Linked DNA regions of Homo sapiens: region 1 is linked to region 2. Evidence: fine-mapped expression QTL. Tissue or cell type: blood mononuclear cells. Region 2 holds a variant in brackets; the other region holds the start of a gene. All regions are shown on one strand. Distances are from middle to middle.

What was found. PIP is the estimated chance that this variant, and not a neighbour inherited with it, causes the effect.
Region 1: it holds the start of OSBPL8, and the variant in region 2 is fine-mapped to the expression of OSBPL8 in blood mononuclear cells (TOPMed, PIP above 0.99). The same link has a PIP of 0.9 or more in monocytes and whole blood.

Annotation. Positions count from the first base shown.
Region 1 is chr12:76,553,914-76,570,165 of GRCh38, forward strand. OSBPL8 (oxysterol binding protein like 8) reads right to left here and starts at 5,858. Exons shown (of 24, transcript NM_020841.5): 1 at 5,484-5,858. LOC105369850 (a long non-coding RNA gene) reads left to right here and starts at 5,989. Exons shown (of 4, transcript NR_188081.1): 1 at 5,989-6,320; 2 at 8,382-8,445. RefSeq lists an enhancer at 4,779-5,088 and a silencer at 5,499-5,688.
Region 2 is chr12:76,526,152-76,542,403 of GRCh38, forward strand. All of the region lies in intron 1 of OSBPL8 (oxysterol binding protein like 8), which reads right to left. Among named protein-coding and RNA genes, the nearest start is that of OSBPL8, 25 kb to the right of the region's middle. RefSeq lists an enhancer at 4,845-5,573. The variant T/G (reference allele first, on the strand shown) is at 10,058.

The sequences.
Region 1 (16,252 bases), 28 kb after region 2:
TTGCAGTGAGCCAAGATCACACTACTGCACTCCAGCCTAGGTGACACAGTGAGACTCTATCTCAAAAAAAAAAAAAAAAAAACACTAAAAAAAAATGCATACCAATTCTGTGAATCAGCCTTATTCTTTAAAACTATTTTTTAATTATAACAACTTAGCTTTAAATACTGTTATCTATTATGTTCTTTAATTTCCAGTTACTCCGAAATTCTCTGAAATTCCCCAGTGAGAAAATGGCAACTGGATGAACAATAAAATAAATATTTGCTTTACTCTAAGTATTTTTAAGATTTAAAAATAGGATGTCAGTCAAATACAAGTAAAATGAGAGAAAAAAAATCAAGGCTATATTCCATCTTCTTATAAAGTAAAGTGCATTTTGTAAATGACACAACTAAAACAGACTCAGGAAGATCACAAGGTCAAGACGTATCAAGAGGAGCAACTGCAAATAAATTATACAAGGCAGTATATAATATGATGGTTAAAAGGATAGGCTCCAAAGTCAAAGGTCAGGTTAAACCTCAAGTTTAAATCCTTTTAGTAGGCTCTACCACCTACTACTTAACTTCTCTGTGCCTCAGGTTTAGTTCAAATCCTGGCTCCACCACTTATTTAATCTGTCAGTTGCTCAGGTTTAAAAAAAAGAAAATAGCCTGATTGCGGGGTGGTTGTCAGGATCAAATGTGATGACATGTCAAGTACTTCTAGAGTAGTACAGTACCTGGTATATAGCAGTTGACGCACATTAGCTATTAATATGACCTATAACAATTTCCCTCTGAATCTATCAAGTTTTCAAAAACTCTAAATCAAAAAGCTTCTCCTTTTTATTTGAAAAAAGTCAAGCTCTGAAACCATTTCCTCTTTTTTTCAGTCCTTTTTGAATATGGAAATTAGTAGGTAACTGGCTTATCATTTGATGACTCTTCTTAGTCTTTGTATAATAAAAAGGCTCAAGACTCTTCTTAGTCTTTTTATAATAAAATTCTCTTCCAAATATTATACAAAGGACAGACTGCTCCATGGATCAAAAACACTACAAAGAGTTCACAAAGTATAATGAAATTCTGAGATTCATAAATGAACAGCTACTGGCACAAAAAGCTTAGATAAGAAATAATGCAGATGTCTGTTTGTTTGCTCAAGAAATACTGAATTTTATAATAAAACACAGATGGTAGAGATCTTCATGGCTTATAGTCACATCACTAAAAACAGAAAATATTTTTGGTAAATTTTTTCTTAACAACCAGAAAACCCCTTATTTCATCACAACAATGAATAGATAAATGACATTACAGGCAAAGACAATTTCTTCAAAAACAAATTACGTAGAGAAAAAAAGCTTAAAGGCTCAGATTTTCAGCTACACATATCCCTTACTTTGAGCTTCAAAAATTTGAGGCTTCTAGCACTCCTTGTGGTCTGTAACATTAAGCAGTAATACAATTAGGCCTCATTTCTACCAGAAAACATTAAACTGACTGAAAGAAAATTATCTAGAATTTTGATTCTGATCAATTTAAACATAATGCCATGAGTCATCTAGATGAGTCAAGCAAATATTAGAGTTCATGATAAACGAATCAAAATATGTTTTAAAGATCTGCAGACAAACGTTTTAATAATTTTGTATTTGCTGAAGTCCTCCTATGTGTGACACATTGAGGTAGGCACATTCATATTGAGGTATGCACTTTCACATGCATTATATAACTTTGTTCTCCCAACGATCATGGATTATTATCCTGATTTTACAAATGAGAAAACTAAGACCAAGTGATTGGCCGATGGAAACGACGCTTGTATAAGATTCAGTCAGAACACCAATTCAAATTTTCTGACCCTTATCGTACTTCCAAAACTCAAGTACTGTCAATCTCTGCTGTTGCAAAGCAAGTTAATCTTTTTATTTAGGGAGAGGTGAAAATAGAGATGGGAGAATAAAAATTCTTCATAATGTTACAAAAAAAGACTTACTGTGCTTTATCTGACATAATTTATTCAGTCTGACTTAAATGCTTTGCTGCACGTTGTCTACCCCCTTAGACACTGCTTATCTTCAGACACACAGCCCACACCAAAACCTAACTCAAGAATCACCTCCTCCAAGAAAGTTTCCCAGATTAAATGACCTGTTCCCCTTCTCCCAAGCTAACATCCTTCCTTTATCATTTCGCTGCTTGCATTTAGTTTGGACTACATTATCAGATACTCCTTTTGTTCTCCAGTCATATATCTGGAAGTAGACTTTTTTCATTCATTAACTATTGAACATTTGGAGATTCAATGGTGAGCAAAACAGACAAGGTCCTTGCTATCATGGAGAATTTACATTATCTGGATCTTCGACAAAGGTAAAAATAACAGGGTATAAGAATATGATGCTCTAGGACTAGGATTTCTTCCCTATAAGGTCTCCGAAAATAGCTCTCTCCCTTGCAAGCTTGATAACACTTTTCAGGAAGAAAAATTCCTTCTATCACGCCTTCCACATGAGAATTTTATGACTTTGTGAGGATATGTGAGGGATGGGGACCAAGGTGGGAAGAAAGATCTAAAATCTCTCAGGGGTTTCCCACATACTGCCATGAAATATGCACACAACATGAGTCTAGACATCTCTTCCTGTGTCTCATCACAAGGAAGCTATACTTTGGCCACAACTGCTCCAGTCAAGCACTTCTACTAATCTCCTTGTACCCAGCCACCTTCACTAAAAATTGTATATTTCTCAGAGGCTTTTTGTTTTTTTGGTGTTTTTTGAGACTGAGTCTTGCTCTATCGCCCAGGCTGGAGTGCAATGGCATGATCTTGGCTCGTTGCAATCTCTGTCTCCTGGGTTCATGCGATTCTCCTGCCTCAGCCTCCCAAGTAGCTGGGATTACAGGCACACACTGCCACGCCCAGCTAATTTTTTTGTATTTTTAGTAGAGACGGGGTTTCACCATGTTGGCCAGGCGGGTCTTGAACTTCTGACCTCATGATCTGCCCACCTCAGCCTCCCAAAGTGCTAGCATTACAGGCGTGAGCCACCGGGCCTGGCCTCTCAAAGGCTTTTTTATTCAAGTTGTGTTTCTGTCTTATTTGCAGGTCATTATTTGTAAGATTAAGGCAGGACCTATGTCCTCTTTGAATTGCCTGATGCTCCAAGAACATTGCTATAAATGTTTTTAACTTTCAATATAATACAAACATTACAACATGACATTTCAGGCATTGTTATTAGGATAATATTAGGATAAAAGTTTTCCAAATTAATATTAGAAAACTAGATCTATGTACTGTATCAATTCTTTGTCTTTAATGCCTTAATTCAAGTAATCTACTTTTGAAGGATTATTTACAAACCAAAGCCAAGTTGAAATGTACTAACACTGGTTAAAATTCTGCAATTCATACTTTTAAACAAAAGATCCGCCAGACACAGTGGCTCATGACTGTAATCCCAGCACTTTGGGAGGCTGAGGCGGGCGGATCTTGAGGCCAGGAGTTGGAGACCAGCCTGGCCAACATGGTGAAACCCCATCTCTAATAAAAATACAAAAATTAGCCTGGCATGGTGGCACGCACCTGTAATCCCAGCTACTCAGGAGGCTGAAGCATAAGAATCTCTTGAACCCAGGTGGCAGAAGCTGCAGTGAGCCAAGTTGCACCACTGCACTCCAGCCTGGGATACAGAGTGAGACAGTCTTAAAAAAAAAAAAAAAAAAAATCCTTTTGTAATGCATATTTTACAAATTCATAATTTCATCATTTTTCTTAAAGCAAACTAAAACATAAATTCATTATACACAATTGTAAATTTATCCCCAAAGTGTTTTCTAAGGCTTCCAATTTTTAAATGAACCAAGGAACTGAATATTGACAAATGTATAAGTACCCTGAATGTGTTATAAAAAACATATTTGACTGTCTTTAAAATGCAGTAACATTCTAAGGAAAATACAGTAGCATCTTTCCACAGATCAGAGATTCAATAACTATTATGATTCAATCAAAGAGAAATAAACCATGGCCATTTTTAATTAAACAGGCATTTCTAAGCACCTGTGTACACGGTATTGCTGTTCAAACGGTTGACATGGAATGTGACCGCAATAACTTGATGTCCATAATTAAAGACCCAAAAGGTAGCTTAAGTTTCATCTATTTCCTTTCTCAGCCCTTTGAGCAGGTATATTATAGTCACTCCATACACGGTTAATATTAAAAAAAAATAAAAGTAACAAACATTTGAAATTAGTTGTACTTTTATAGAGAACAGTTTTAAATTGCATGGCCTTACTTTTCCTATTCCAACCTATTTTATAAAACTAGCATGATCTTAATAATTTCACTGCAAAACAGGTTCTAGCAAGCATAGAAACTGATCATAGCCTCTCAGCAAAATCAAGTTTAGATGAAACTCTAGGAAATTAGCAAAATTTAACAATCAATTCACCCACGATTCTCCACAATTCTTGCTCTCTCTAGATACGAAGGGAGGCAAAAACTGTTTTAAAGGATTATTTCAAAAGCAGCACTAATTTTGGGAAAAACTTAACTGCCATGCAGGAGACACTGTATTACTACTCAGACGTCATTTAAGTCTTCTAGCAGCAGAAAGGCAAAAACATCATTAAATTTTTTATTTAATGCATATATACTTACATTATCAGTTAAAGTTTACCCATCTGTTTACGTTGTCCAAGTTACCTATTATTTCAGAAAGCATTTAAATAAAATGAAATTAGGTTACGTTCTGCAACGCAGATGTGTCTCATAAAGAAGAGTGTTAAATGACTTTTGTGAATGGAAAATCTGCATATACTGTTGCTTCGCCTCAGCCAGTCTTGAGTGGGTGGTTCAATGAACCTAAAGCATGCTGCCTGTGAAGCTCCTTGGAACCTGATTCCACTCTTGAGAGAGGGCTTAGAAACAAACATTAAATTTAAAAGCACAGCAAAGGCTTGGCTTTCCTCCTACGTTACAAGAAGGCCGGGAGAACTGAGGCTTAGAGGAACAACACCGTGTCGCTTGGCTCTGCAAAGGCGGGTGCGGTCTGCGGTGCGCGGCACAGCCTTCTCTGGGGCTGTCACAGGAAAGAAGGAGCCTCGCCTTAACCGCACCGAGCGACAAAGCGCCAGCTCTCCTGGGCGCGGGGGCTCCCAACGAGGCCCATGCCATCAACCTATCAAACTTCAGGAGGGACAGACACCCGGGGCGGTCGAAATGCTCCAACAGCCTCCCACCCCCGTTCCCCTGCCGCGGCTTTTGTAAGGCTGCAGATGCACCTACTGTGGGCCCCTAAACACTCCACCCTGCCAGCCTTTCCAATCCCCCTACTCCAAAAGGGAACAAAGGAGCCAAAGAACTCCTCGGCGGGGGTGGCCAGGAGTCCCCGACAGCCCGAGCTCAGAACGTGGCAATAAGGGTGCGCAGTCGCCCTGAGGGGTGCGAACCCAGCACCCCAACCTCAGGAATGGAGCAACACTCACCCGTGCGGAGCTCCCAGGGAGGCGGGACGCAAGGAGCCGGTTCCTCCGAGGTCGCCGCGGCGCCGGGGTCCGAGGCCCCGTAAGCGTCTAGTCAGACCCCAACTTCTCTCGGCCGCTGTCGTCGGCGGCAGCTGGGGCGCGAGCCTGGACGAAGGGCGCTGCCCAGCGGCCGCGGAGGCACTGCCGGCTCAGCCCCCGAGCGGGGCGGGAACTTTCGGCCCCGAGGTCCACCAGCCCGGGCGGACCCCCACCTTCCCTCAGTCGGCTTGCTACCGGCAGCGGCTACTGCGGCGTCCAAAGCTAACACTACAGCCGCCGCCTGGCCAGGAGCGCGTCGCGGCCTAATGTTGTCATCCGCCGCGTCGCCGCCTTTCTGGGCACCCAGAACCGCGAAGATCCTTCACATTCTAGTGCCCTCCCCCTGCCCCGCCCGCCCCCCGGATCACGGGCTTCGGCCACGCCCTCTTCCCGTCACGTGACGGTGCGCGGAGGCGGTGGTGGAGTTGCTTCCCCTGCTAGGCGGGCTCGAACCGGGCGGGAGTCACTGTCCACCTTGCTTCGCCAGGGTGTTATCGCCAGCCAGTCCCCTTCCGCATGCCCAAGGGCAGCCTCAGGAAGCGAGCCCACCACCGTCGGCCCAGCGCCTGTTGATCGGCCAGGCCTTCTGGGCCGGTCATACTGGGCCCTTCCTAACCTGAGGAGATTGCACAGTAGGGCTCCCTGGTCTGGTCAGGGCTCAGTTAGGACCCCTCTCCAGCCTTAGGCTTGGTGAAAGCTTTAGCGAAACAGAAAAAAGAACGCATCGTGGTGTAGAGTGTATGGCCTAAGAAGCATTCGGTAACTAAACTACTTGTTCCTATTTCTAGTGGCACATTAACCGTGGCATTTAATTTACTGCTTTCCTCATTAGAGGTTTTTTTTTTTTTGAGGAAACGGTGTATTTCAATCATGCTGGGATGAAAACAGCCTAGCAAACTTATTTTTGTTCCTTGTTATGTTCAGGATCCTGCTGCCAGTTTTACAGTCATTAAGTTTTACAGTGTGTTAGGTTGGTGACAGTTTAAACGGGTACGCAGGAATTTGACAGTTTGTTCCATTTTTTAAAATAAAGCCTAATTCTTGATTTTTTTTCTAATGCCTTAATTTTTTTTTCCTAATTCCTTAACTCTAGGACTTAACCTTTTGCTTTCTTTTTTAGCCATGATCCGAAGAACCCTCTAGCCGCCTAATGAAATCCTAACTATACAGAAGTAAGGGAGGTAGAATAAAGATCATACTCAAACCCTGATCACAATGAAGGCAAATGAGAAAGCTTTCTGTAATAATTAAATTGGGGTCATAACTCATTTTCCCTTGTAGCCCAGAACTAAGGATTTTTTTCTTAAGCTATTCTCATCTCATTACATTTTCTTAACAAGAAATCAGAAGGCATTCTGATAAGCTGGATACATTGAAATGAATAAGCAATAGAGTTTGGCCTATATAATTATTATTAATATATTTCATAGCAGCTCTAAAAAAATCATAGACTTACATTGTTTTATGTTACCCAAGAAAGAAAACAAAGGCTGCCAATGAAACTATGCCATACCGCTGATATGTAAGGCACCTTTAAGCCACATCTTTTTCCTTTTTTTTTTGAGACAGGGTCTCACTCTGTCTCCCAGACTGGAGTGCAGAGGCGCAATCTCGGCCCACTGCAATTTCCGCCTCCCGGTTCAAGCGATTCTCCTCCCTTAGCCTCCCAAGGAGCTGAGATTACAGGCATGCGCCACCATGCCCAGCTAATTTTTGTATTTTTAGTAGAGAGGAGGTTTCACCATTTTGGCAAGGCTGGTGTTGAACTCGTGACCTCAAATGATTCACCCGCCTCGACCTCCCAAAATGCTGGGATTACAGGCATGAGCCACCGCGCCCGGCCTGAGACACATCTTGAATTCAGAGATGTAAACATGTCAGAAACAACGAGTCTTAGAATCTCTGAGATATTGTCATGAACTGGGAAACAACGAGTCTTAGAATCTCTGAGATATTGTCATGAACTGGGAAACAACGAGTCTTAGAATCTCTGAGATATTGTCATGAACTGGTGTTCCAAAGAGGAAAAGATTCTACCAGGTTCTGTTCTGAAGCCTGAGAGACTGTAGTACAAATAAATGTGAAGGAAGTTTATTATTCTGTGACATTATTTCAGCAAAGCTAGTAACTTTGGAGTTTGTTAACAGATTAACTTGTCTCCTGTTTTCTAGAGGCATGTTTTTCAACCTGCAACTCAAAAATCAATTTCATTTTTATATGAAATAGGCTAGGATGTAATACAATATAAAATACCAGAGTGCATAATGTCTAGTAAGGGCAAAAATTGCTTCCTGAAACTTTTTGTTTCAAATATGGTGGAAGGTGAGAGTATGTCCTATGTTGTGATTTAAACAATTTCTTACTGTGAGTTGCAATCAAATAGATTTGGAAAAGAATGTTCCTAGAGCATAGATAATATGCAAAATACACCATCTGGACCCCGTTTTTCTGGTACTTTTATTTTACTTTGGAAACTGAGACTAAAGATTAGAAAAAGGTGGCAAATTGCCTTGCCTAATTCTCTTCTGCCTCAGCCCCAATTTCATACATTGGCTTTTGAAAATTTGATCATTTGTTGGAAAAAGCAATGTACTGGAAGCAAGGAAGCCTAGGTTACAGACTTAGCTAATGAGATGTATGACTAGATAAATTACTCCCTGCATTTCAAGTTCCAATCAAGTAGGACCACATGCTGTTTGAGAAATGATACTAAACCACCTTTTTTTTTTCCCGGTGGATGGCAATCACATTGGAAACAAACAGACACGGTATACTCAGGATTATGCAAATTACTGACAGCCTACGTTTAACTTCTTTCAGCTCCACTCAAAAAAAAGAAAGTCCTAATGCAAGTAATTGAAAGTGAAGATATTGCAAAACAAATGTAAGTATATCTTTCACAATCTTCTCTACTTTGATTATCACTAGTATAATAGTTACTTGTCATGAATAACTAATGATTTTGACATACTTAACAACTGATTGCAACACAAAAATATATTAATCCACTACAGTTGAAAAATCATTTTTTCAGATCCTTTCAAATCTGATATTGTGATTCCAGGAATGATAATTCAATCTAGCATTTTCAATGTAATGACAACATAAACAGAAACTAATATGTGATCCTGCACTGTAACTGAAAAATATTCAGTAACTCCCAGAGATGCCCTGCAAGTTTGCTACTCTTACAATGATTTTAAGAATGACATTTTGAAATAAAGCTTTTTTATTATAACGATCCGATTTTAACTCCAATGAGAATTCATCTCTTTTGCCTACTGCTTTATTAATTATACATTTCTAAGAATGGGAAGTTCTTTCCAAATTAGTTTAAGCACTGACAGGCTTGACAGCCTTTCCCACAGTATATTTCAACCCTGACCTAGAATGACAGAGATGTTGCTTGAGGTTGTTTGCTTTTTTCCATTTGGCTTATCCCATTAGACAATTATGTTGCTGACAATTACTAATCAGGATTCTAGACTAAAATCCTCATTTTCTGGAAGAGAATTTAGATTAAGAGCAACCTCAGCCATAAATAAGGTATTCAACACAGCTTTGAAGACTTGTATTCTTGTTGGTCATGTGATTTGCTTTAGCCAGTGCTTTGTGAGCAGATGTTAAATGCTAAATCAAAGCAGAGGCTTTAAATTTGATTGCAAAATTCAGGTCAATCTCTTACTCTTGTGCCACCTGCCATGAGAAAGGTATGTTCCAGATAAGATCTCAGAATAAGAAAATAGATGGAGCAGACCTGAAACTCTCACCCTGTACAGAACTGAAGCAACTGACTTGCAGCTCCTGACATACGGCTACTGATGTGAAACAAGAGTAAAACAAAAATATTTGTTGTTGTGAATCACAAATATTTTTGAGATTGTTTGTTGCGTAGCATAATCTTGCAAATCATCTAAAGTGAATTTGAGCCAACAAACTCATGAGTCAAAGGCTAAATGTACTGTGGAACAATAATATTTGTCTATTTAATAAAATAAATAACAGACATCTACAAACTAGTCAACCAGCTATTTGGTAAATATCCACCTAAAATTTATGTTAAGAAGCAGTCTTTATAAAATCTGTAAATTTGCATGCAAAATGTTTGCATGTAAGATATTTACATACTGATTTTAAATATTTCTGTTTAGTATTATTTGTCTTAAATATCCCTTGAGGAAAATTTGGATAGTAAAGTATAAAGAGAATATAGGATTCTGTTTCTAGAAATATCAAGGACTAGTTCACACTTGTCACACTGAAAACAAAATCCCTGGAAAAAACATTTTTTAAATCTTATTAAATATATTGATTAACTGACAATAGGGTAAGAAATTATTAAGTTAAAAAACTAAATGAAGGCAGGAACCTAGAGTTTAGCAGAGTCAGCCAACTTTTATCTCAAGGGCATGTGCTAAACCCAGTTACTAGGAGCATTGGTTTTCGTGACCTTGTAAGAAAGACACAAAACCCATTACCTGCATTATACACACACACACACACACACACACACACACACACACACAAACAACTGCAATTCCAAGGATTATTAATTTGATGTAAGGATATACTAGAAATAAACTTGCTGCTTACTAGCATAGGCACCCATCCCCCAGAATCTACAAAGAAAATTAGCCGTCTTAAACCTTGGCACCTGGTGGACAGGGGAAAAGCAAAATCGTATCTGAGAATTTGGAACTGCAATCCAATTCTCACACAAAAACGTAGCTTGAATTCATACTAGCTGGGTGGTCCCCAAAAACTTCAGGCTAATAATTAAGATTTTTTTTTTTTTTTTTTTTTAGACAGGGATTCTCTGTCGCCCTGGCTGGAGTGCAGTGGCATGATCTCAGCTCACTGCAACCTCCGCCTCCCAGGTTCAAGCAATTCTCCTGCCTCACCCTCCCGAGTAGCTGGGACTACAGGCACGTGCCACCACGCCCAGCTAATTTTTTTATTTTTAGTAGAGACAGGGGTTTCACCATGTTGGCTAGGCTGGTCTCGAACTCCTGACCTCGGGTAATCCGCCCACCTCCGCCTCCCAAAGTGCTGGGATTATAGGCATGAGCCACTGTACCTAGGCGTAATTATGAATTTTTGACTGATAATGCTCTCAGAAACCTGGCAGAAGCAAATACCAATCCTCTCTGGAGGAACCCACCTTCATCTTAAGCCATAAAGAATGACTATAAATAAAATTTTAAGGAAAATGAGCAGCTCACATTTAAAAAAAAATAACAAGCACAGAATAAGACACCATTCGTGAGAAACAGTACAGACTTAAGACAGCACAAACAAATTTTAAAAGACTTCAGATCCTGGATTTACAAGTCACGGACTGGGCCAGGTGTGGTGGCTCATGCCTGTAATCCCAGCACTTTGGAAGGTCAAGGCAGGCAGATCACTTGAGGTCAGGTGTTTGAGCCCAGCCTAGCCAACATGGTTAAACCCCCATCTCTACTAAAAATACAAAAATTTCGCCTGTAATCCCAGCTACTGGGAAGGCTGAGGCAGGAGAATCGCTTGAACCCGGGAGGTGAAGGTTGCAGTGAGCCAAGATCGCGCCACTGCACTCCGGCCTGGGCGACAGTGAGACTCCACCTCAAAAAAAAAAAAAAAAGGGGTCACAGACTGTAAATAACAATATTAAATATGAGTAAAGGAATAAAAGACAAGTTTGAAAATATGTGCAGAGAACAAAAAACTAAAGTAGGAATGAAGATTTTGAAAAAAGCAAATAGAACTAAAAGAGTTGAAAAACATAAATGATTAGAATAAAAACTCAGTGGACAAATTTAGTAGTTCATTTGACACAGCAGAAATACAAGCCAATGAAATGGAAGATAAAGATGAAGTTAAATGCAATAAAAAAAGAAAACATAAATTAAAAATATAAAAGAGACTTTAAGTGACATGGAGGACATTGTAAACAGCTCTAAAATCTAATTATGACTTCAGATGAAAAGGAAAGAGCCAGTGGGCCAGAGGCAGTATTTGACAAGATAATGGTTGTGAACTTTCCAGAACTGATGAAAGACTCCAACTCACAGACTTAAGAAGCCTCCCAAATCCCAAGCAAGTTAAAGAATAATAAAACCACGCTGAGATATATCACAGTGAAACTGTAGAACACCAAAAACAAAAAAGAAAACCTTAAAAGCAACAAAGAAAAAATATAGTTAATCTTCAAAGTGTCAGGTAAATGACTTTTCATCAGAACCAGTGAAAAACAGAAGACAGTGGAATAATATCTTCAGTGGACTAAAAGAAAATGACTGTCAGCCTAGAATTCAGTACCCAGTGAAAAAATTATTTCAAGAATGAGGCCAAAATAAAGGAATTTTCCGGCAAGCAAAAGCAGAATTTGCCGCTAATAGAGTCTCGCTAAAGGAAAGTCTAAAGAAATTTCTTTTTTCAGACAAAAAGAAAATGATCCCAGGCCAGGCACAGTGGCTCACGCCTGTAAATCACAGCACTTTGGGAGGCTGAGGCAGGAGGATCACAGGAGTTTGAGACCAGCCTGGACAACATATTGAGATTTTATCTCTACAAAAAATTTAAAAGTTAGCTGGGCATGGTAATGTGTGCCTGTGGTCCTGACCCGGGAGGCTGAGGTAGGAGGACTGCTTGAGCCCGGGAGATCAAGGCTGCAGTGAGACATGATCACACCATTATACTCCAGCCTGGGTAATAGAGAGAGATCCTGTCTCAAAAAAAAAAAAAAGAAGAAGAAGAAGAAAATCAACTCAAATGGAAGGTCTGAGAGTTGATAATAAACGAAGAGCATTAAGAGTGGTAGATATTTGCCTAAATCTAAATACAATTGACAATGCAAACAAACAGTAAGTATTGTTAAAATTATTTTAATAAGTTTTTTTAAAGAAAAAAAAATCACATATCTAACATTAGAAATAGACCCAACCAAATTTGCATTTTATGCCTACTATTAGACCTCATTAGACAAAGTATTTTACAAACTAGTACTATTATCTCCATCTGATACATACCTTTTATTTTAAAAGCAAAAACATGATACATTTCTTCTTTTCTCATCCATAGAGGCAAATTGTATTAATATATTATTGGTATTCTCTTTTTAAATAACAGCATTTTAAGTGTTTTTCTTCACAATGACATTCTTATTTCAAATTTACATAATGTACCAGTGAAGATGATGTATTACATAATTAGACTAAGAAAGTAGCATATATTTAGGAGATCATGATTTAGAGTAATAAAAAGCAGAATTATATACTATTTTCACTTAACTATGAAGTATTAATGATTCCCTCCATAGAAGTCTATAAATGAAAGTTCATCATAACAAATTATATAATTATGTATTCACAGGTTAAAGACAATTAAGTCTTATTGAAATGCTCTGCCTACCCTTTCCACCCACGTTGCCTATTCAAAATTATGTGCATGCTATGACTTTTAACACCATCTTGGGAAATAGCTAGAAATTTGTGCGCAGGTATAAGGATTGACTACTGAGTTTTAACTCAATTCAGAGGACATCCTAAATTCAAAATAAATTCTAATAATAATAAGAACCCATTTCTGATAGCTACTTAGACTACAAATTTCCAATTGTAAATGTGTTTTTCATTTCAATTTTAGGAGAGTGTTTTTTTTTTAAGTTTATCATGACTATTTAAACATGGGAAGCTTAGAACACATAATCCCTTAGATTTCCAAATCTGTAAGTATAATGCAAATGAATTATACCTTACTTTTTTTAAACCAGAACCTTTCTCTTTTTTCCCCTCAACCACGAGATCATTCAAAGTATATTTACTTATATACTACTTTGTTTTTGTTTTAGAATCAGGGTCTCACTCTGTCACCCAGGCTGAAGTGCAGTGGCGTGCATTACAGCCTCGAACTCCTGGGTTCAAGTGATCTCCCTCCTCAGCCTCCTGAGTCACTGGGATTACAGGCATGAACCACCACACCCTAGAATATTTTCTTGATAAAACCAAATCTATAATTTTATAGAAGACTGTCCAAATGACTTTTATTTATATCTCTTAATATATGTAAAAGTGTATACATTACTAGTATTCCTATTAGCTACTAGATTGCTAGCTAATTACAAGATTATTCCAGTTAGCTTTGTCCAGCCTGTATTTATACAAGTATATGAAACTCTTGAGAAGTCACAGTAATTAAATTTTCATAAACCAGGTTGTATATTAATTCTTTCAATTTAATAAGTTATCAGTTTGTACTGGGTCCTACACTTACTTACAAAAAAAAATTATCAAGTATCTGTATGTTGTTCTACCTCTTTCCTGAAATGAGTGTAAAGCTAACAAGAGTCCTCACCCTATAAACCAGCAGTATTTCAAAACTCATTGTTACTGTTCTGGGAGTGAAGGTGCCGTATATTCTTACCGCATTATCAGGTAGCAACCATCTACTCAATCCTCCCAACCACAGGTACTACCTAGATGTCTTTTGCCAGATCTCCCAGGTATTTAGTGCCTCTTTTACCTCTACAGAACACTGGTACCCAGAAGTGATATGGTGGAAAAAGAAGGCGCCTACCCTATATTCCAATAAAGTCTGTCCACTACATTCCTGTCACGTTCATTCCTCTGTTCTAGGCCCTGTTGATATTCTCCCCTAGTTGTTTCCAGTCCATTTCTATGGGAGCCTTACTTTTGTCTGGTATTCTTACATGCACAGCTGAGACCAGACTCCCAGTCTCATTCCCTTAATTGTATCCTTTAATCCTTAATCCCTGTAATATCCTCCTGGAACTGGGATTGATATACCTCTATTGAAGACTTTATCTTTGAATGTCAGCTCACTTCCAGACATGGCCACCAACTCCACCCCATGATCGCACATTGTTATACTCCCCACTTCCTTCTGCAGTCAGCAAATAGACTTGGACCTGACATTCTTTGTGTCCTAAGCCCCCCACCCCTTCCTTAAGTTACTAAAGTAGTACACCAAAAGAATACAATTATCTGAACTGAGGGCGGGGAAAATTCCAGAGAAAAATGACCTTCGTGCAACAAACAAAGGCAAGAGAGTAAAAGGGAGGGCACTGTTAGAGATTTAAAATAGACTTACCAGATATATCAACCAAGTGCAATACGTGGATCTTTACCTTTATCAGATTCCAATTCAAACAACTTATAAAAAGATATAATGAGACAATCAGGAAAATTTTAATACCAACTACATATTACAGGATATTAAGGAATTATTGTTAATTGTCTTAGTTGTGATAATGGTACATGATTATGGTTTTTGTTTTTTTAATGTCTCATTTCCTAAAGACATTCTAAAATGTTACTGGGTCCCTGCTTTAGGAAAGAAAAAAAAAGAAGACTTTCAGAGTATGTCACTTTCTTTTTTATACCTGTCGGTCAATTCCATGGGAAAGTATTACTACTTGTTATTTTCTACCCTTAACCAAATACAGTAATCATTTTCTCCTTATCATATCTATTATTATTTTTTAGTAGAAGTGTTCAAATCAAAAGCAGCCCATGCTGCCTACCTGGTATTTGCTCCAAACATCTATTAAACCACTATGGAAGGCCTAACATCATAAGACTGGTGGTAAATAAATCTGATTGAGCATGTTAGCATGTTCAAATTTATATAAAGCATTCTGCAAATACAGATTACTCTAGAGATGCTAAGAAGCAGATGTACTGATCTCGTTGGCATTGGCATTCACATGATTCAGCTACAAATAGAATTTGAACAGATTCCAAATGCACAACTGTCAAATTCATAAAAAGTAGCAAAAAAAATGTCAAATAAAAATTTAGGCTTTGCCTAGAATAGCAGTGACTGTGTTTTAAAAAAATCGAAATATTCTGTTAATGTTTTATTTCTTCAGTGCTAATATTTGACAAGAACTAAGTACTTTGATTTCCATTGAATTCGCAGTGATAGCCCAGAAACTGTTATAAGTTAGTATTACTATTGGGTCCACAGAAAACCTCAAAATACATTTTAACCAAAATTACAAAGTTAATACAAATTTGATTCACTGAAGTAGTATAGTGCAGTGTGTTTGAGTTCTAACACCAAAATCAGACAGATCTCAGTTCTAACCCTAGCTTTGTCATTTACCACCAAGGCTGTCATCTGTAAAATCATCTGTAAAACAGGAGTTTAAAAAAAAACTCTTTTATAATATTATAAGAATTAAAGAACTCAAGAAATATAAACTATTATGGTCACTACCTTTTGGGAATATTATGTTCTATACAATATTACTAACTGTATTTTCACTACACCCAGTTGGAGAAAAATTACACACAGACCATACACTCTACCATCCTCTCATTGATAACAAGGCTTTTGTAGCAACTGGCCTGATTCTGAGGTTTATAGAAGATACATAGGCAGGCATGACTTCAGGCCATTATGCAGCTTTATGTAATAATCTACACAACCCCTAATATGTACGTATCAGGATCTTTCATGTGATGTGAAAATGAAAGCCACTTCCTTAACAACCAGGAAACACTAAATTTCAGAGTTATGTTTTCCATTCAAGTAAATCTCCAGCCAGACCTCCTCTTACAATACATGGAGTTAGCATTCCCAGCCAGTCCCCTCTTGCCACACTTATTTCTTAGTATAACAAATTACAGTAAATAAAACTTATCAGCCAGGCACTGTGTCTCCCGTCTACAATCCCAGCAATTTGAGAG
Region 2 (16,252 bases):
TTGAAACAAATTTCTACATAGAGTATTACATGTCGTCTTATGACAGACGTTTTAAACAATCCAGGAGGAGAAAACAGATGTATACATTTAAAAAAAGTTTCCATTAATAGAAAATAATTACATCAGTGGGTTCTATTTATTGATATATATATCACAAAAGTATTAATTGAACGTTTTTCAAATGTTTATTTCTCCATCAGCCACATACTTTAATTATGCCGCCAGTTATGAATTTAATGATTTTCCCCCATATCAACATTTCTCAGTAGTCAGTGTACCAATTTCATAATTTTTGCTATGCACTACTAGTATACAGTTACTTAATTTTTTTTTACTGGCCTTTAACTTTGATTAGCCTCAACTAATAAAATCCATGAATTTACTGGCTTAAGTCAAAAGCTGCATATTTTCTAATATATAATATATAACTGTAAAAATTACACGAGGAGATACACAAATGTTATACTTGCTATCAGTAAATCTCTTTTTTTTTTTTTTTTTTTTTTTTTTTTTTTTTGAGACAGGGTCTCACTCTGTCACCTGGGCTGGAGTGCAATGGTGCGATCTCGGCTCACCACAACCTCCGCCTCCCGGGTTCCAGCAACTCTCCTGTCTCAGTCTCTCAAGTAGCTGGGATTACAGGCGTGCACCACCATGCCCAGCTAATTTTTGTATTTTTAGTAGAGACAGGGTTTCACCATGTTGGCCAGGCTGGTCTCGAACTCCTGACCTCAGGTGATCCACCGTCTCAGCCTCCCAAAATGCTGGGATTACAGGTGTGAGCCACCATGCCTGGCCAGTAAATCTCATTTTTAAGTCCAGAGCTCTATTGAGAACTAAGTGTGAACCACTTTACACCTCTGGACCTCAGTTTCCTCATAAGTAAAATTATGAGGCTAAAATGTCAATTACTGACACTCATTAAAATTCTAATATTCTACAATCTAACAGCCAGCAGTTTTACCTGCTGTCTATATATTGCTGACATAATCACTGCAATGCAAAAGAATGTAAGGTATACGGTACCACCTCAACTTTAAGGTCCATATTAGGACCTGTCTTTAGAGTAATAAATTAAGGAGGGTGGTGGGCCGGGGTGGGGGGGGATTGTGCAACATGAGGCAACTTACAATAACTACAACCAATCAATAAAGTACATTAATTACAGTTTTCTAAGGTTTTTCAACTTCAATTAAAACCCTTTGATCCTACCTAATCAGGAAAAAGTCAGCTCTTCAAAAGAAAAATCAGTTCAAGTAGGAAACCAAAACAATATGTTAAACATTTTATTACAACTGAAATATACATATATCTCCAATCTTTTGATGGAAAGCCTTATCATCGAGTATAAATCTGTCAATTAGAATTACATATCTTCCTTGTTTAAACCACAGCTATAATACATGGGTCTGAGAGCTCTACGGGTAGTTCTTTAAAGTGAAGCAAAATTTAAAACATTTGTAAAGCCATCAGTTTGGAGAATCCTACATGTTCCAATTACTTTCCTACCTTTTCTAGTTATCGAATTATCTTATCCATACCAAGACAGGCCCAGGGAAATGCCTACAAAAAACATTGAGTTGCAATACAGAAGAGTCCTGAGCTTAGGGAACCCAAATATTTTATAATGGACAGCAAGAATGCCTGCCTTTTCTTTTCCTAAGGAGGAAAATACTATCATTATCTTCCAAGGCTGCTCACTAGATAAACATTCTTGAAAAGGTAGTCTAGAGTAACAGGCAGTCAGTGCTTTACTTGCAAGATATGCAGAAATGCAAGAAATCAATAAAGAGTTGTCTTCCAACTGTCTGTTTATCCCTGTCTACTTAACTGCTACCAAATACAACCCCCTGTAGCATTTTACCTTCTAATATATAAGCATTATTGTTGGCCAGGCACGGTGGCTCACACCTGTAATCCCAGCACTTTGGGAAGCCGAGGTGGGCGGATCACGAGGTCAGGAGTTCAAGACCAGCCTGACCAACATGGTGAAACTCTGTTTCTACTAAAAATACAAAAATTAGCTGGGCATGGTGGCACATGCCTGTAATCTCAGCTACCTGGGATGCTGAGGCAGGAGAATTGCTTGAACTGGGACCTGGGAGGCGGAGGCTGCAGTGAGCCAAGATCATGCCACTGTACTCCAGGCTGGGCTACATGCAGAACGAGACTCCGTCTCAAAAAAAAAAAAAAAAAAAGTATTATTATTAATAACAGAAGATGAAATCATGATTCACGAGCCATTTCTAAGAAACTTCACTCTTGTAAATAAGAGTTAGTTTTGATTACCAGAATTTTTTCTATGTGCTTTTAGACAATTTGAACAATCCTTTTATATTTTATATATAAATCATGCCTTGTCGAGTCCAGTCTTAATAACCAAATGCCTCTGCAATGAAGTTAGTCATCACCCAAAAAGCTTCAGAAATTAAATGAATCAAGTGAGTACTATAGAAAGGGTACATCCTAAAATAAAAGATAGTTGTCACAAGCCAAAGAAGATAAGGAAGTGTAACAGAATCACACACACACACACACCCACACAACGATATAGCTATAGTATTAGCTATAGCTATAGCTACAGACAGCTACTAGGGAAGGCTGAGGTGGGACAATCACTTGAGCCCAGAAGGCAGAGGTTGCAGTGAGCTATAATGGCGCCACTACACTGCAGCCTGGACAACAGAGGGAGACCCTGTCTCAAAAAAATAAAAATAAAAATAAGTAAAGTATAGCAACTTTAAAATTTCATCAAATTTTTCACTTCTCCCAACCTCCTCTCAAGCTATAACACAATCTTATGCCAGAATTAACCAAGGATACCAAAGTCCAAAACAGGGGTAGTGTGGTCTACCTCTGAAAAAGCAGTATGAAGTTATTATGTCACTACTTCATTTCAATCTTAGTTTTGTTTTGTTTTTTTTTAACTATGACAAAGCTAAAATATCATTATGAATTTCAAATGTGAGAAACATTAAGGATTCTAAGCTGTTTCTTATACTAAGGGCTTCTGCTTAGGAACAACAATTATTTAAAGCATTATGAACTAACAATCAGAAACTGAACTAGGATATTAAGGTGCACACTATAAGGAAAATACAAGATAATGCTAAAACTTCAGAAAAATAAATTTAAGAAAACTGGAATCCTTGCTATTTTTCCCTTCTTGGGCACTTGTTACTATCCCCTTCCAAAAACAAATCAGTTGGTGAGTGGATTTGTAGAAACCTAATCAAAGCTTAGAAGGTATGTCAGATTACGAAACCCAGCTGAAACCTTTTGAGCCTCTAAACCATGAAGCAACTAACCATTTGTACTTGCCTTAGAATAGCAGTGTCATGCCAGCTCTGGATTACCTACCTGCTACTACCAAACAGAAAAAAAAAAAAAAAAATTCTTATTTAAGCCACTGTTCATTTGGCTTTCTATTAAAACAGTAGATCTGTATCTGAATACATCGTTGAAACCCTTTCTGTGAAAAACTGAAGAAGCTAGTGGGGGAAGAAGACTCGAGATAAGAATAGGCTCATTATTCAAAGGCCAGCATGGCTAAAGCATAGTAAGCAATGAGGAGAACTATCTGAGATAAGGCTCTAGAGACAGTAGAGTCTGGATTTTATTCACTGTGAAAGAGGAAACCAATGAAAAGCCTATGCAAGGCAGGAACATGATCCACTTTATACTCGAAGACACATTACTAGTTGCTTTAAATGCATTATTACATAATGTAGTCATCACATAAACCCTATAAAGCAAGTAATTTTTCACTATAGCCCCATTTTCAAAATGAAGACACTAAGGCTCAGAGTAGTGAAGTAACATGCTGATTGCTCATTCTGCACCATCCACAAAAGCCTCTATGATATGATATTCCTTTAACATGTCAAGCAGATTTCCACATTTTTTTTCTTTTCTTTTTAGACACAGGGTCTCATTCTGTTGCCCAGTCAGGAGTGTGGTGGCAAGATCATAGTTCACTATAATCTCAAACTATTGGAAACAAGGGATCCTCAGCCTTACTCAGCCTCCCAAGTAGTAAGAACTATAGGCACGTGCCACCGGGCCTGGCTTTTTTTTTTTTTTTTTTTTTGTAGAAAAGTCTCACTATGTTGCCAAGGCTGGTTTTGAACTCCTGGCCTCAAGCAATCCTCCCTCCTCAGCCATCCAAAGTCCTAGGATTACAGCTGTGAGCCACCACACCCAGCCACCACAAGGTTTTTGTATCTGCTGTTCTTTGCCTAAAACACTCTTCCTTATGGTTCACTCTCTCACTTCTTGCAGGTTTCTTTGTTTAAATGCCATTTTATCAAATAGATCTTCCCTGACCATCCTAGCTACAAATAGCAAAATAGCAACTTGCCTCCTCCCATTCTTTTATTCATCTTTTTACCAACTACTTTTTTTTCCAAGACACTTAACACCTGACACACACATTTGTTTATATCCCCACATGTAAGTATAGTATATTATATCCCCAAATAGAAGCGCTCCATAAGCAGTTTGTTTTGTTCAGTGAGGTATTCCCAACACCTAGAAGAGTGCCTATCACAGGAGGTGCCTATCACAGTAGGTGCTCCTTAGACACTTAAGAATTGTGGACTGGCAGAGATAAGGAGCTAACTTTATCATCAAGCAAACAGACTCTTTATAGTATAATAAAGCAATAAAGGCATGAAGGCTTAATTCACTTCCCTGAAGACATAACTAACAAAGGAGTATTAGACTGAAGATCTTCCACTTCCAGAAACAACATAAGTTCTCATCAATGAACTACATAAATGAACCCAACTATAGACATAATAAATTGCCATCCCTATTATTTTTATTAAATGTTATAGTACCATTGTGTTAGTCCATTCTCACACTGCTATAAACAACTGCCCGAGACTGGGTGATTTATAAAAAGAGGTTTAACTGACTCACAGTTCCACATGGCTGAGAAGGCCTCAGGAAACTTACAATCATGGCAGAAGGCAAAGGGGAAGCAGGGACCTTCTTCACATGGTGGCAGGACAGAGAAGAGTGAGCAAGAGCAGGGAAAATTGCCTTATAAAACCACCAGAAGTGCTTTTTAAAGTCATTGTATCACCTTTTATCACTCACTTAGCATCATAAAACAAGCACAAAGAAAAACAAGTTGTGTTACTTAAGTGACACCATTCTCCTTTTCTTAGTTAGCTTCCAAGCAGATCAGCAATCTAAATTTGACTTTCAGTAATTCAATGGTAATAAAGTATTCCCTCCATCATTCAAGTTAGGTCCAACTCAGGTTATAAAAACTAGTCCCTTCAGACCAATTGCTTGTACATTTCTACAGGCACCTTTTTGGCAAACCCACATGGATTTTAAGAAATGGAGAATGAGGAGACAGGAAAATATTAATAAGATGTATCAAACTGTGACAATATGTGAAGAGTACTGTGTATATACAAACAGGAAACAATTGAAAGCCTTCAACATGTGTGGGTTGGGGGAGAGATAACTGAATTAACAGGCCATGTAGTAAAACTTAAAATCAAATCCAGTAGTCTTGAAGGTATAGTAATTGTTTAGTTTTGAAGGTATAGTAATTAAGTACTGCGCACTAAAAAAAACTGACCAAAAGGCCGGGTGCGGTGGCTCACGCCTGTAATCCCAGCACTTTGGGAAGCCGAGGCAGGCAGATCACGAGGTCAGGAGATCGAGACCATCCTGGCTAACACGGTGAAACCCCATCTCTACTAAATATACAAAAAATTAGCCAGGCATGGTGGTGGGCACCTGTAGTCCCAGCTACTCAGGCGGCTGAGGCAGGAGAATGGCGTGAACCCAGGAGGCGGAGCTTGCAGTGAGCCGAGATCGCGCCACTGCACTCCAGCCTGGGCAAGAGAGCAAGACTCCTTCTCAAAAAAAAAAAAAAAAAAAAACTGACCAAAAAATACACAGAAATTGACAAATCTGTTCCTTAAAATTTTTCTTTTCTAAACAAAAATTTTTGTTGTGGACTGTATCTGAGGCACTATATTCTCTAAGAAGAGAAAAAAAAACTGTACTCCTTCAGCTGAAATAACATTCTAATTTCTCTGATATTCACCCCCAATTAAACTAGGTGGTATCAGAAAATGAAAAGCACTTAATATATTTAAGAAAATACCATAGTGAAAAAAAATCACTATAAATTATCTATTTTAAGCAAAACTATTTGATGTTGCTCAAACAACATAGCAAAACTAGATCATTTCACTTTATTATTTGTTAAAAATCATCTCCCTTCGTCACACACTGAATCTATGAAGTAATTAATAATGAATACAATGAATGCTTATATGTATTAGGATCATGGCAAATCTATAAAGGCTGAAAGGCTTGGGTTCAGCCAATGAAGTTAATATTGTATTATAAGATTTCTAAAAATGTTATATCCACCTAGAAACTACGGCAGTATTGGATTTTTGTTTTAACCTGTCCGGACCCATTTCCCCTTCCTCTGTTAACATCCACCTTGATCTTCTTTTGGGAAAGGAACATCCCTCCTCCAACATATGCAATCTTGGTACTCCACGCTCTCCTAGCAAAAGGAGTGGACAAAAAAAAAAAGAGCCAGACCAATCAGTCCATGCCTGTCTCTCTCTCTCTGATAAATGTGAATCACAAGCAGAGTGATCACGTGAATGAAAAACAATCACAAAAAAAACTATCCTAATGGGGGCTCCACAAAGATTGTTGCTTTCTGCTCTCTAGATCCCTAAAGCTGTTCAAATGTCTACTATTTCTAAAACTCCATTTTTCATCTTGGAAGAAAATGAGCTTATCATCCTAGTAAATCATTTAAGTTACCCAAACCTTTCTATTACTTGAACCGAAAAACCCTAAATTGATATAGGTACTATTTAACACATTTGTAACCAAAATAGTCTACCTTTGAATAAGGAAATAAAATAAAAATTAACTTCAAAATATTTTTAAATGAATTTACAAAAGTAAAATCAATGTCAGACATAGAACATTTTAAAACACCATATATCCTATCATAAGAAAAAAATACAATAGCATAGTATTCATTTATGTGTTTCTTGCTAGGTTTTTAAACTCCATTACATAAGACCTATCCTATAACCATATGCAAGAACCAGGTTTTTTTTAAGACCAGGTTTTGATAATAATCATAAGGAGAAAAAAATGTTTACTCAGGAATGTAATCTCTTCTTCAATTTTCATTTGGATCCTACTACTCAAGGTGCCTTCTCTGGAGCTCCTGCTTCATTTCCTCTTACCCACTATCAAATGAAGGATTTGCGGTAAACTTCATGATTAGGACTAAGAAGAAAAACATTTCTAAAAATATCTATTTGAGCAGCTGACTGATGTTTCCATTTGTCTGACTGATCTTGCAATCCACTGAAGTCTTTATGAGGCAAACACAGGAGCAGACACAAACAAGTGATGACCAGCCCTCCAAAAGCACTTAACAACGATCAGTCTATATCAACAACTTAAAGGCGAGAAACTCAAGCGCTCAGAAATGAGATTATTAACCTCATCTCCACCTCATTACCTACCGGTTTTCCAAAATTCTAAGCTGTTATCAAGTGCAAAGCTTAGAAATGTCTTTCAAAGGACAAATGTGATTTCAGTAGGAAAAAAAATACATCTATATTCCTACTATAGCCTGGGACTTACTATTCATCAAAACAAGTTAATTCAAATGCATAACCAACATCTATAGTCATTTCCAGTAGGTGAGAAATGAGGCAAAATAAACAGAAGATAAAATCTCTATCTAGGAAAGCACACGATTTAATCGGAAAGACCAAAAATACACGTGAAATAAAACATTCATATATAATCAATATTATAATTGAATATGCTACATTTTACCTTTTCTCCTAATATTTTTACTGTAAACTAAAGTGGTTTAAGAAGGGGAAAATACCTGAGTGCTATTTTGAAACCAGGAACTGTATTCATTAATGAGATTTTTTAAATGTCCATTTATATGTAGTCAGAAACAAAATTAAATGCAATTTTTATCTAACATTTTTCTTCAATTCAACATGTTCCCAATTAACACACACTATAGTTTGGCAACTGCCATTACAGTACCTCAAATGTTCCTGCAAAAGACTGCTTCAGGCAAGGATAGGAATGTTTCTGTTAAAGAATGGGCGAAGAAGGAAAAGAAACACAATTTTAAATTGAAAAGTGTTACAATTTCATTTCCTGTCAAGTATCAGACGTGGTATTTAAACACAGGGCTTCTGGTACACACTTTTGTTGCTGCAACCCCAATTTACTGACCTTGTCAAAAATCATATACTATTGGAATCTAGAGTTGCTTACTACCAATAACGGGCTAAAGAAGAATACCAATTGCTGTCTAATTCCTTCCGACTAGCTGAAAGTACTTTGCTTCTTCCTTAATATATACAATATCTGCATTGGAAAATAACAAGCAGGAAGTCCCTGGTGGTGGCAACATCTTGGAAAGCAGAAACTCACAAAAAGAAACAAATGAAAAACAAAAATCAGCAACACATACACACAAGCAATGAGGTCAAGAGAGTAAACTATGCAAAGTTTTTTTACTATTTTCGAGATGATGTTGGTTTGGAAGATTTACACTACCTTCAAAACTTACAAAAACATTCAAAATAATGTGGTACTAGCATACCGCACATATATCAATGGAATAGAATAAGGAGTCTAGAAATGGACCCATAAACAGAGTCAATTAATTTTCAACAAAACTGCCAAGGAAACCCACTGGGAAAAAGAAAATACTTTCAGTAAAAACTGGATATTCATTAAAAACAACAAGAACAACCAAAACAGCCTGGCTTTTATACTAAACAAAAATTAACTCAAAATGAATCACAAATCTAAATACAAAAGCCAACATTATAAAACTTCTAGAATAAAAATGGGAAAATAAAAATTTGTAGACAAAAAAATTCTTAAGATATGCAAAAAATATAAACCATGAAAGAAAACAGATATGCTAAATTTCAAAAAATTAAATTACTTCTCTTTAAAAAGTTTTTAAAAAAGGCAAGACATAAACTGTTAGAAAATATGCACAACACATATATTAGACAAATGACTCAGATTCTGACTATATAAAGAACCTTCAATAAGAAATCAATAAGAAAACAATTTTTTAAATGAATAAAAGATTTAAACAATTTACAAAAAAAAATACAAATGGCTAATAAATCCAAGAAAAGATGCTTACTACCACAGTCATCAGCGAAACGCAAATGAAAAACCACAATGAGATACTATTACACAACCACTAGAATGTTAATTAAATTTTTTTAACTGAAAATGTAAGTGTTGATGAGAAGGGGAGCAACTGGAACTCTCATACATTGCTGGTGAGATGCAAAATGGTACAGCTACTCTTAAGTATTTACCAAAGAAAAATGGAAACATGTCCACTCAAAAATTTGTACATGGATGTTCACAGTAGCTTCATTTACAATAACCGAAAATTACAAACAAGTCAAATGTCTATCAAAAGGTGAATGGATAAACAAATTGGATATTCATTACAATACTGTAATAGTATTCCTATACCATGGAATACTATCCCAAAATAAAAAGGAATAATCTCAAAAATATGCAGGGCAAAATAAACCAGACAAGAGTACATACTCTATGATTCCGTTCATATGAAATCTTAGAACAGACAAAAGCAATCCACAGTAACAGAACCCGAATCAGTCATTGTCTGACATAGAGTAGGAAAGGGAAAGATTAAGTTCAAAGGGCACAAGAGAATTTTGGGGACTGATGGAAAGTTCTATATCTGTATCTATTGTGGTAGCAGTAACATGGGTGTATACATCTGTCAAAATGAATCAAACTATGTACTTAAAATGGTTTCATTTTATTCAGGTGTAAATTATACCTGAATAAAGTAGTTTGGGTTTTTTTTAGTATTTTTTTTAAGTGATATTGGGGGGGTGTGAGGTGGAAAGCAGGAAAGACTACAGAAGTAGCGAAAGGCAAAATGATGCTGTTTAAGTAACAATGTTTAAAATCAGAAAAAATGTAAAAAATCTAGCACAACTAGGCC[T/G]GGTGTGGTGGCTCACACTTGTAATCCTAGCGCTTTGGGAAGGCGAGTCGGGCAGATCACCTGAGGTCAAAAGTTAGAGACCTGCCTGGCCAACATGGTGAAACTAAAAATACCAAATACTAAATACTAAAATACTAAATATTAAATACTAAAAATACCAAAAAAAAAATCAAGCCCAACTAAAACCAAGAGTGTAACTGAGATAATTAATTTTGTCTGTAAAAATGGGAATAACTCACAGGATAGCTGTAAAAAATAGATGAGATAGTTAATCTTATCACTGTACTACTTAACACTATGTATGCTGGTAAATTACAGCAACACAATTCATATTAGTTGAATTTGTATCTACCCATGGTAAGTGTTAAGGTGAAGCAAAGAAAATAAGTAAAAGTAACATGGAATAAATCCTGAAAGAATTTCTAGAGGAAATTATCTTAAGATGCCACTTTTGAAAAGAGAAAAGGAAATGGGTGGAAAGGAAGGAGAGACCTACAGGTGGAGGGAATGGTAATGTGCAGAAGAACGGAGGCGGAAAGGAGCAAGTCATATGTATGAGATGGCAAAATTAGCATGCCTGTGGCAGCAAATCCATATATAGGAGTATCAAAAAAAAAAAAAAAAAAACGAGTAATCTTCCCATCTGACGCGAACACTCATTTAAATGTTACAGTAGGACCCAGAAATGTAACTTCATCCAGTGGATGCTATGATACATGATAAATATATTCAACCATTTAAAACAGAGAAAAATAAAAAGTTCTATCTTTGTGTTTAAAAAATGAGAATGCTTACAATTACCAGCTTCAGTCTCTTGGAGGTTAGCCACAGTTCTTCCCAAAAGAAAAAAAAATTATAATTATTAAAATATAATTATAGCTAAGCAACATATGGACTTGCTGTGCAGCTGTCCCTGTGCTTCTGAAACTATGAAAGCCTTTACATTTTGCAAAGTCTGATTTCTATAAATGACTGGTATTTGGAAAATAAGATACAAGAAAATCTGCCCAAGTAACTAATCAGCTACAACAAGAATTATTTCATAGCATACTACTTAAAAGGTATCAAGACACTAAAATTGTATTTCAACAGACATAGTATGACCAAGATCAGGATTCCTGGGCATTTATAACTTTAAACTGTTTTTACATTTATACATTTAAACGTGTTTAATTAAAGAATGCAGGGTTACCACTGTTATGATGTGCAAACTAACTTAAATCTTAAGATTTTGCTTATAGAACAGTGTTTCATATACAGAAAAGTATTATTTTCAATGTCTTATCACTGAGAAGAGATAACAAAGATAATAGTTATAGTAATAACTTGAGCAAATTAAGTTCTCTGAATGAGAGAAATCTACAGAAATGTACGATGAGAGAGATTCACAATGAGAAATAAAATATTAAAGGACAACAGGCCAGGCACGGTGGCTCACACCTGTAATCCCAACACTTTGGGAGGCTGAGGCAGGTGGATAACTTAAGGTCAGGAGTTCAAGACCAGCCTGGTTAACATGGTAAAACCCCGTCTCCACTAAAGATAGAAAAATTAGCTGGGCATGGTGGTGGGTGCCTGTAATCCCAGCTACTCAGGAGGCTGAGGCATGAGAATCACTTGATCCCAGGAAGCAGAGGTTGCAGTGAGCTGAGATCGTGCCACTGCACTCCAGCCTGGGCAACAGAGCAAGACTCCATGTCTAAAAAATAAATAAATAAAATAAAATAAATAAAGACAGTAATACTGACCTTTAAACGCAGTAGCACCAATGGAGATTGCTGAGGACAACAAAGTTACAGGGTTAAATTAATTTAAGTCTCTTTATTGAGAAAGGCTGTTATATAGTGGCAGTCAGCTAACTAACAAGGTTTTATCTGCTCCATCTACATCAAGGCCATACCAATTAGAGACCTTGACTCAGAGTAGAGAATGTAGAGGTTAAAGAATAACCTTAACGACTTTTGCTTTTTGAACCCATATATTATACATCAATGTAGTCACTAAAATATTTACAAACACATAAAAATTTGATGTGTTATATTGCTCAGAATCATGAATAATTTTTCTTTTCATGATAGTATTTTACACTATTAAATACTTTTTAAACCACTAACTATATATTCACTAAAAGTATATATTTATTCCTATTTTAAGAAACACAAATTGGAAAACAATTCTTAATAATAAGATTAGCAATAAAACACTAGTCAAGACCTGTCACTAACTTTTGTTTTTTTGTTGAAAGAAGATTTTAGGAATGTGACACAGCTATAGATTATTTTTAAATGAGGATTATGAAATATTTTAAATCAAACACCTGTAAGAATGATTAAAGGGATGACAGGCAACATGAGAGCAAGCCCTTTAAGTATAGTTCAAAGGCTTTATCATTGTAAACAAACTTATTTAAAGGTAAGAAATTTGTCTATGGGACATCTATATTATTCAGAACTTTGAGACCCAGTGCAGTGGCTCACACCTGTAATCCCAGCACTTTGGGAGGCCAAGGCAGGCAGATCACTAGAGGTCAGGAGTTTGAGACCAGCCTGGCCAACACGGTGAAATCCCATCTCTACTAAAAATACAAACATTAGCCGGCTGTGGTGGCACATGTCTGTAGTCCCAGCTACTCGGGAGGCTGAGGCAGGAGGCTGAACCTGGGAGGCAGAGGCTGCAGTGAGCCAAGATCACAACACTGCACTCCAGCCTGGGTGACACACCAAGACTCCATCTCAAAAAAAAAGAAAAAAAGAAAAAAGATTAGAACTTCGAGGATGAAGTTCAAAATTGAAAGGAATAAAAAAGGAATGAGAAGTCCTAAGAGCCTGCTATTAAATAACTGGGGGGGGGGAGGGGGAGGGTAAGTATCCTGAATCTCTTACTTAGGGTAGGAAGTATATTTTGAACCACCTACCTTAAAACCATGCCACCCAACAGCCACACAGAGAAAAAAAAAAGACAGATATCAACTTTTTTAAAAGTAAATTTAAATTAAAGCTCTGCCTAGGGAAGCCATTGTTGGAGTCATTCATTTTCTCAATATTCTTCTCTATGCGTATTTATGTCTCTGTTTTAATAAAACCCTATGCAGAAAAAATAAGTAAAATTTTTAAGTGTTTAAGCAAAAAGTCAAAAAGGGCAAAGAAATTTAAACATATGTAAAGGTAACAAGAAAATATTAGAAAAATAAATGCCAAAGTTTAAGAATAAGAGTGTACAAAATGTCAATGTACTAAGAAGACTATGGACAAAGATAAAAACAGATAAAAATAAAAGGAAATACAAATGAAAAACTAAAACAAAATAACATCAGCAACTTAAGACACTGAAAGCAAGAAAACAAAAGCCATCTTTCAATCAACGTAATATTAATAATGTAGCAATGTTAATTCAAAAAATGAACACCTTTACCCAAACACTCTTCAAAGACTGCTTTTCCCTCCTAAGATTTTTCATGAAAACTTTAGTTAGCAAATAATCTCACGATAAAAAGCCGAAGAGTGAAGAGCACAGCTCCTGGTCTCATACCAATGGCTACTATCCCTAGTGCTCCGGCTTTTCTAAGACACTTATACAAGAAGATAGCACGATCCCTCAAAGAATGCTGAGCAGGCCGTAAGTGCCATTTGTCTAACTTCCCATGAGCAGTCAACGGGTACAACCAAACATAGACCCATACACATCCCACATCCCCTAAAAAAGTAGTCTGGATTTTCAGTCAGAAAACAGTCGGCTTCAAGGAAGCTTCTTTTTTTAGGTCATTGTTATCTTAAAAGCAGTAGGCATGCCTGCTGAGTATACCAGTAAATGATAAGAAATCATCTTTTTGAATCTTGTTTCTAACATCCTTCCTCCCCCGATCATTGTGTTTTTAACTTGGCAAAGCTTATCCCCTTAAGTGTTCACAGCTAGATTGAGATCATTACTTTTCATATAAAATTCTAGAAAACATCTGCACTTTGAAATCCTGGCATTCCTTAACAGCATTCTAGAGCTATCAAGACACTTCAAGTCAACCTCTCAATAACCATAAATTTTAGAGATCACAAAATGAACACAAAAGGGTTAAGTGACTACTTGCCCAAGATCCCAGGGCAAGAGACCAGAACCAAGGTCTCTTGAGTCTAAGTCTAAGGTTGTAAGAATAAAATACACGCAATCAATGGGAGGAATTATTAGGAATCTGACTTTTAGATTTAAGATGTATTGATTGGTAGAAAAACTGCAAAACAACATTACAATAGAATACGAGTTCTGTTTTTAAAAAAATTATATAGTCGTGTGTGTGTGTGTGTGTGTGTGTGTGTGTGTGTGTGTGTACAGAGAGAGAAATCTAGAAGAATAACACCAAACTGCTAACAAGGTGGGCTATTTCAGACATAAAGTGGTGGCAACAGAAGCCAACTTAATGAGTTTTTATAGCTGCTGGAATTTATATTGAGCACACATTGATATAATAATCATATTTTTTCTTTAAAAAAAAAAAAACTTCAGACAAGCAAACACATTTCAAGCAGAAAATTATCCCAAAATGGCTTAAGTCTCTCTCACACACACATACACATGCACACAACTCCAAATATATTATTTGTAATTGAGATTAACCTTGAAATTACTTTTCACATCAAATGTGGTCTTCCCTTAAGAAGAGCAAAACCTTAACATATTAGAATTATTCTAACAAGTTACAGCAATCAAGAAAAGTAAAAGTCTGAATTATAAAATGCATTTAAAAACATTTTTCCTTTAGATACATAGTAGTAACAGAAAAAGAAAACACAGCTAGCAAATAATCTCAGGGTAGACCAAAAAGAGCAGAGCTCCTGATCTTTCATACCAACGGCTACTATCCCTAGTGCCCCAGCTTCTCTAAGACACATAACGCAAGAAGATGGCACAATTCCTTACACCATAATGGTAAATCTACAGTAGCAATAGAAAGTATTTGTAATAAATAAGTATTTGCAATTTAAAAATTATTTAGATGTGGTCAGGCGCGGTGGCTCATGTCTGTAATCCCAGCACTTTAGGAGGCCGAGGCAGGTGGATCACATAAGGCCAGCAGTTTGAGACCAGCCTGGCCAATACTGTGAACCCCATCTCCACTAAAAACACAAAAATTAGTCAGGTGTGGTGGTGCACGTCTGTAATCCAGGCTACTCAAGAGGCTGAGGCACAAGAATCGCTTGAACCCAGGAGGCAGAGGTTGCGGTGAGTCGACATTGTGCCACTGCACTCCAGCCTGGGTGACACAGAGCAAGACTGTCTCAAAAAATAATAATAATAATAATTAAATAATAAAAATTATTTAGATGTAAATGCATACTGCTTCAACAGTTTTTACCACATTAAAAATAGGCCATAGGCCAGTTGAGGTGGCTCACACCTGTAATCCCAGCACTTTGGGATACCAAGGTGGGCAGATCACCTGAGGTCAGGAGTTCAAGACCAACCTGGCCAACATGGCGAAACCCTGTCTCTACTAAAAATACAAAAATTAGCCAGGCTTGGTGGTGGGTGCCTGTAATCCCAGCTATTCGAGAGGCTGAGGCAGGGAGAATTGTTTGAACCCGGGAGGTGGAGGCTGCAGTGAGCTGAGATCGTGCCACTGCACTCCAGCCTGGGCAACATGACAAGACTCTGTCTCAAAAAATAAAAATAAATAAAAATAAATAAAAGTAGGCCGGGTGCAGTGGCTCACGCCTGCAATCCCAGCACTTTGGGAGGCCAAGGCGGGAGGATCACCTGAGGTTGGGAGTTCGAGACCCACCTGGCCAACCTGGAGAAACCCTGTTTCTACTAAAAATACAAAATTAGCCAGGCGTGGTGGCACATGCCTGTAATCCCAGCTACACGGGAGGCTGAGGCAGGAGAATCGCTTGAACCCAGAAGGCAGAGGTTGTGGTGAGCCAAGATCATGCCATTGCACCCCAGCCTGGGAAACAAGAGCGAAACTCCATCTCAAAAAAATAAAAATAAACATAAAAAAATAAAGCATAATGCTTACTTCACCACTCCCTCCCTTTAAAGACTCTCCAGTACTTTTAGTTCTTCTGTCTCTTTAACCAATCCTTTGACTCTTTCACTAGCTCTCCCTCTATCTCAGGGTTTCATTCTAGTAGAGATGCTTCTCTTCATCACACTCTCCACTACCACCTTCAGTGCAGGTACTGTCCATATCACCAGTCTAGAACT